Homo sapiens: one gene and its partner. The protein of the gene in region 2 interacts with the protein of the main gene of each other region in a pairwise test. Each region holds a gene or a part of one and is shown on either strand. Other genes may lie near its edges. The genes, in order: TAB1 and ASRGL1.

Region 1 (3,824 bases), on a different chromosome or scaffold from region 2:
AGAACTTGGTTGAAGAATGACATAGGTAAAAAGCAAAACGTCCTTCTCCCTGCCCTGCTCCAGTGCAGCCCAGGGACAGACAGGCCTTGGGGCCTGACCATCTGTCCACATGCCTAATCTCTTCCAGGTCCCTTCATTCTTCAGCCTCAGTTTCCCTCTCTGGAAAACAGGGGTACCACCTGTCTTTAGGGTTGCCCATGAGGACTGAAGGGAATAAGGCAGGCTGTGTGCCTGGCACAAGGGAGGCACTCAATCAGTGGTGGCCATCATCTCTATTATGTGGCTTCAGGGCTCTGTGAATTGCTTGCTGGGGCACTCAGGTTCTGGGAGGTTGCCGGGGCAGGTGGTATTAACCTCATTTTACAGACAAAAGAGCAAAAATCAACACTCAGCTCAGAGAGGCTAAAAATCAGAGAACCTGAATTAGAGCCACTCAGAGCCAGGCCTCCTGACTCCATCTCCGTTTCAAGCAGCCTCGGGGGCTCTGCACCCACCTCTGGCCCCCAGATGGCATCCCCAGGCACTGCCTGTCTGCACAGCACACGTACCTGGGGCTGGGCTCGGTGTGGGCTGGCTCATTTCGCCCAGCGGGTAGCCAAAGTTCCTCACTAGCAGGGTCATGTCCTCGTGCCGGGGGCAGAACCTGGCACGCTCCCCACCACTGGCGAAGGTGTCGCTGTGGATGCGCTTCACCCGGTCCACGACGGCCTGGGCCACTGCGTCCAGGGAGGTCTGCTTGGCAAACTCAGTGTCAATCATCGCAGCAATCTCCTGGGGGAGGGGGTAGGAAGAACCTGGTAAGGAACGAGGTGCGGCCTGGGGGGCATGGGCCATAATCTTGGAGCCTAAAATCAGGAGATTCAGTGGTCAACAGCCCAGCAGGTGAAGGAAATGCCTGCCAGCCAAGTTTGCAATCTGAGCCTTTCAAGGTATTCAGGATAATCCTTCTGGAACTTTCTCATTAGGAAGTGTGTGCTCTTGTGATTGCTCTAATTGTTGGGTGCACACCTCTAGGATGGGGAGAACATCCATTTGACTGGGTGAATACGAGTATTAACTAACAGTGGTGTGAGAGCACTCTGCCAGCCACTAAAAAGCCTAGTAGCAAGTGTCATTATTATGAAACACTCTTTCCTGGAACAAACTTGTTGTAGGCGATGTTATACATGCTAGGATTTTGTCAGGAACTGGGGATACAGAATGAAAACAGGGTCCCTGACCTCAGAGAAGTCCCTGTCTAGTATACAGATGTTCCTCAATTTAGGATGGGACTATGTCCTGACAAACCCACTGTAAGTTGAAAATATCATAAGTTGACCGGGCACAGTGGCTTGCGCCTGTAATCCCAGCACTTTGGGAGGCTGAGGTGGGAGGACTGCCAGAGGTCAGGAGATCGAGACCAGCTTGGCCAACATGTTGAAACCCCGTCTCTACTTAAAAATACAAAAATTAGCTGGGCATGGTGGCACATGCCTGTAATCCCAGCAACTTGAGAGGCTGAGGCAGGAGAATTGCTTGAGCCCAGGAGACGGAGGTTGCAGGGAGCCGAGACCAGCCTGGCCAACAGGGCAAGACTCTGTCTCAAAAAAAAAAAAAAAAAGAAAATATCGTAAGTTGAAAAAGCATTTGGCCGGGCGTGGTGGCTCACACCTGTAATCTCAGCACTTTGGGATTCTGAGGCAGGCCGATCATGAGGTCAGGAGATCGAGACCATCCTGGCTAATACGGTGAAACCCCATCTCTACTAAAAATACAAAAAATTAGCCGGGCGTGGTGGCGGGTGCCTGTAGTCCCAGCTACTCGGGAGGCTGAGGCAGAATGGCGTGAACCCGGGAGGTGATCAGTAAGCCCAGATCGAGCCACTGCACTCCAGCCTGGGTGACAGAGCGAGACTCCATCTCAAAAAAAAAAAAAGAAAAGAAAAAGCATTTAATGCACCTAATCTACTGAACATCATCACTTAGCCTAGCCTACCTTAAATGTGCTCAGAACACTTCTATTAGCCTACGGCTGGGCAAAATCATCTAGCACAAAGCCTATTTTCATTATTATATAAGAAAATGTTGAATCCCATGTAATTTTTTTTTTTTTGAGACAGAGTCTCACTGTGTTGACCAGGCTGGAGTGCAGTGCTGTGATCTCAGCTCACTGCAAGTTCCATCTCCCAGGTTCAAGAATTCTCCCGCCTCAGCCTCCCGAGTAGCTAGGATTACAGGCGTGCGTCACTATGCACCAGATAATTTTTTTTTTTTTTTGTATTTTTAGTAGAGATGGGGTTTCACCGTATTAGCCAGGATGGTCTCGATCTCCTGACCTAAAGTGATCTTCCCGCCTCAGCCTCCCAAAGTGCTGGGATTACAGGCGTGAGCCACCACGCCCAGCCGAATCTCATGTAATTTATTGAGTACTGTTTTGACAGTGAAAAACAGAATGGTTGTAGGGGTATGGGAGCACAGTTCCCACTGAATATGTATCACTTTCTCACCATCATAAAGTTTCTTTTGGGCGGGGCAGGAGGGCAGGGACAGGTAATAGGAAATGACCTGCACCTGGTCCTGGTGGGCTCAGTTTCAACACTAAGCAGCAACGTCACTTCTGGCAAGAACCTGAACTCCGTGGACCCCAAATTCCCTACTCTACCTGGAAATAAGCCCCTGTCCCTCTATGTTATAAGGCTACTGGAAGGAATGGTAAGCTTATATAACAGGTAAAGAAATCAGAACACAGGCTGGGCGCAGTGGCTCATGTCTATAATCCCAGAACTTTGGGAGGCCAAGGCAGGTGGATCATCTGAGGTTACGAGTTCAAGATAAGCCTGGCCAAAAAGGCAAAACCCCATCTCTACTAAAAATACAAAAATTAGCCGGGTGTGGTGGTGGCACATGCCTGTAGTCCCAGCTACTCAGGAGGCTGAGGCAGAAGAATGACTTGAACCCGGGAGGTGGAGGTTACAGTGAGCCGAGATTGCACCACTGCACTCCAGCTTGGCCAACAGAGCAAGACTCCATCTCAAAAAAAAAAAAAAAAAAAAAAAAGAAATCAGAACACAGGGAACAGGGGATAGTTAGGCACTTGAGACTTTTTCGAAGTAGATCTGCATTCAATCCAGCAGTCTGGGCATCTACCTAAAGGAAAATAAGTCATTATATGAAAAAGATACTTGCACACGTATGTTTATAGCAGCACAATTCACAATTGCAAAGATGTGGAACCAGCCTAAGTGGCCATTGACTAATGAGCAGATAAAGAAAATGTATCTATAAACTATGGAATACTACTCAGCCAGTAAAAGGAAAGAATGAATGTCTTTTGCAGCAACTTGGATGGAGATGAAGGCCATTATTCTAAGTAACACAGGAGTGGAAAACCACAAACTATGTTCTCACTCGTAAGTGGGAGCTAAATGATGGGAATGCACAGGCATACAGAGTGATATAATGGAACTTTAGAGACTCAAGGCGGGAGGATGGCAGTGGTGCTAGGGATAAAACACTATACATTAGTTACAATGTACACTATAAAACACTATACATTAGTTACAACGTACACTATAAAACACTATACATTAGTTACAATGTACACTATAAAACACTATACATTAGTTACAATGTACACTATAAAACACTATACATTAGTTACAATGTACACTATAAAACACTATACATTAGTTACAATGTACACTATAAAACACTATACATTACTTACAATGTACACTACTGGAATAACTGGTTTACTAAGATCTCAGAATTCACCACTACATAATTCATCCCTATAACAAAAAAATACTGGTACCTCAAAAGCTACTGAAATAAAAATTAATTTTC
Region 2 (2,557 bases):
AAATTATAATATATATTATATATTGTATAAATTATAATATATAATAAATATACCATATTAGATATATTGTAACTTATATATTATATAATTTATATATTATAATATATAAATTATATCTAATATGGTGTCCTCATAAGAAGAGGGGATTAGGACATATAGAGACAGATGGCAGGGCTGTGCACGTACAGAGGAAAGACCATGTGAGGACACAGTGAGAAGATGGCCAGCTATTACACAAGCCATGGAGAGAGGCCTCGGGAGACACCAACGTGGCCGACACCTTGATCTTGGACTTTTAGCCTCCAGAGCTGAGAAAATATTAATAAATTTCTGTTGGTTAAGTCACTTAGTCTGTGGAATCGTGTTGTGGCAATCTTCAACTAATACACCTCCTAATAAAATACTTGTTTCTAAAGGGGGAGTTGTTGCATGTTGAGGTTTTTACTGTGCACCTCTGTCTGGGGTGAATGCTGGCAAACTGCAGGAAGACTGCGCCATAAACCCTATCATGGTTTGGCTTCTTCCTTGACCCACTCAGAAAAAGTTCAGTTCTTCTGAAAAACTCACGAGTACTCCACAAGGTGGCACATATCACCCTCCACACCATCCTCATCTCGAGGTCTCTGTAGTACACCTGAGACCAAGGGGGGAGCTCGTGTACATTCTGGTCTTTGTCAACAGTGACTCCCAACCACACCCTTATTCTTTCAAAATATATTTTATTAGCGGCACATGGAATGTCAAGTTAAGCAAATTCTTTCCAGAGAGAAGGTGAGCCTGACAGACTAAAACGTTGAGCACGGATGATACAGCAGAAATAACATTTCCAGTGTAATGAGAGATAAAGAGGAATACTGCCCACCGAGGAAATGACTTTCTTCACCATGCTGACCACACTGCACAGCGCCCGATCCGGCTGGTGAGGATGGGGAGGTGGGAAGAATCTCAAAGCACTGGACAGGGTGAGGACTCAGGAAGTCACGGGGTCAGCCCTACAGCATCAGCTCCTCTCTGTTGTTGGAGAGGCCCTGAGCCCCATTACTCACTATACGAGGACCAGAGTGTCTTTGGCAGGTGGAGGCTGGCTCACGGGAGAACACCAAGTGAGGGGGCTCCTCTGTGAACCCAAGAAACTTCAAGGAACCCCACAGCGTCTCCCTTATGACCTCCCATCTCCAGATTAGGAAGCTATGGATTCCCAGAGGGTCCTTTGGAAGTATCTAGAAATGTCCAGGTAAGTCAGAGAAGGGCTGAACTTTCTTAGAAAAATCACTTTAGTCTCTCATACATGAAGAACATTTTCCTTAAAGGATTCTGGTTCTTTTCCCTGATGTTCTTGTGCAACGTTCTGAGGGTCACCTGGGCTTCGCCCACCACTGCTTCTACTGCTGCTGTGTCACTTTCAAACAGCTCCACCTCCACCGGCCCCTCCCTTCCCACCTTCCAGCCCACAGTGTCTGCAGGCTGTGGGTCTCCCACATCTGTCATGTCAGGATCATGCTGCTGCTTTCTTTCTTTTTTCCCTTTTCTTTTTTTTTTTTTTTTTGATACAGGGCCTGGCTCTGTTGCCCAGGCTGGAGTGCAGTGGAGTAATCATGGCTCACCTCAGCTTTGACCTCCTGGGCTCAAGTAATCCTCCTAATACGGGCATTTCTCTCATCGCTTCAGAACCCGCCCCACAACCAAACATTCAGATGCTTATTAAGGCAACAAAACAAGTGACAGACGGGACAATTTTTCCAATTCTAGATCTAATTGATTAGGCTATGTCTCATGAGGAGACTGTACTTGACCTCTAAGCTAGCATCTGGAATACAATCTTCCAGCGGCTTAGGGAAGGTCGGTGATAGTAGTATCGTCAGGATCAATTCCGAAGTGCAGCTTGCCGTCCTTGGCGGCTGCCCAGGGCATGGAGGTGGAGGTCCACTTTGCCACCCAGTCTCCTGTTTTGCTAACCACGATGAGGCCACCTAAACCTTTAACCCTTGACTTCATATAACCCAACGATAGGTCCGCAGCCTCTTCTACCGTCTTTCCTGAAAACAAGGAAGGGTTGAGAAACAACACACATTACTGAAAGGAATCTCATGGGAAAATCACTTGCCATTTGAAATGCCAAAGTGAGCTAGCAAGGATTTTTGGTAAATGAACGCCTGAATGCTTAAAAGGAGGGTCCTCACCTCCTTGCCCTGAGACAGCGCCCTAGCATCAGCCTGAGCAGAGGGGTCTTCCCTCCCACATCCAGGCTCAATGTCTCTCTACTGCCCCCTTCTCCTGAGATGTGGAAGATAACAGTACTCAATGCTCTACCATTCCAGACCTAAGGGAAGGCGGAGAGTCAAAACAAGGTGTTAACGGCCTGAAAGCAACATCTGTAGCCAACAGGAAAGGGTTTCCTACACTTCTCCATGCGCTTACTTATCAAATACCTTCTATGCACTTATCTTCACAAATTATTTTACTTGTCCTGTGGTCTGTGTACCTTGTTCTATGTGGAACAGGGTGAGTCTAGCCAGGTTCACCTTCAGGATGCTTTCCCCATGCCCTGTGGTTGAGA

The links.
Region 1: the proteins of ASRGL1 (region 2) and TAB1 interact in a two-hybrid assay, tested with the Homo sapiens proteins (one large-scale study listed by BioGRID and IntAct).

The regions. Positions count from the first base shown.
Region 1 is NC_000022.11:39,423,650-39,427,473, reverse strand, and holds part of TAB1 (TGF-beta-activated kinase 1 and MAP3K7-binding protein 1), read right to left. Parts: intron 772-3,824; coding exon 549-771; intron 1-548. UniProt on the Homo sapiens protein: Key adapter protein that plays an essential role in JNK and NF-kappa-B activation and proinflammatory cytokines production in response to stimulation with TLRs and cytokines.
Region 2 is NC_000011.10:62,391,558-62,394,114, reverse strand, and holds the end of ASRGL1 (isoaspartyl peptidase/L-asparaginase), read right to left. Parts: coding exon 2,483-2,557; exon of another isoform or gene 2,482-2,482; intron 2,037-2,481; coding exon 1,831-2,036; 3' UTR 703-1,830; downstream 1-702. UniProt on the Homo sapiens protein: Has both L-asparaginase and beta-aspartyl peptidase activity. May be involved in the production of L-aspartate, which can act as an excitatory neurotransmitter in some brain regions. Is highly active with L-Asp beta-methyl ester.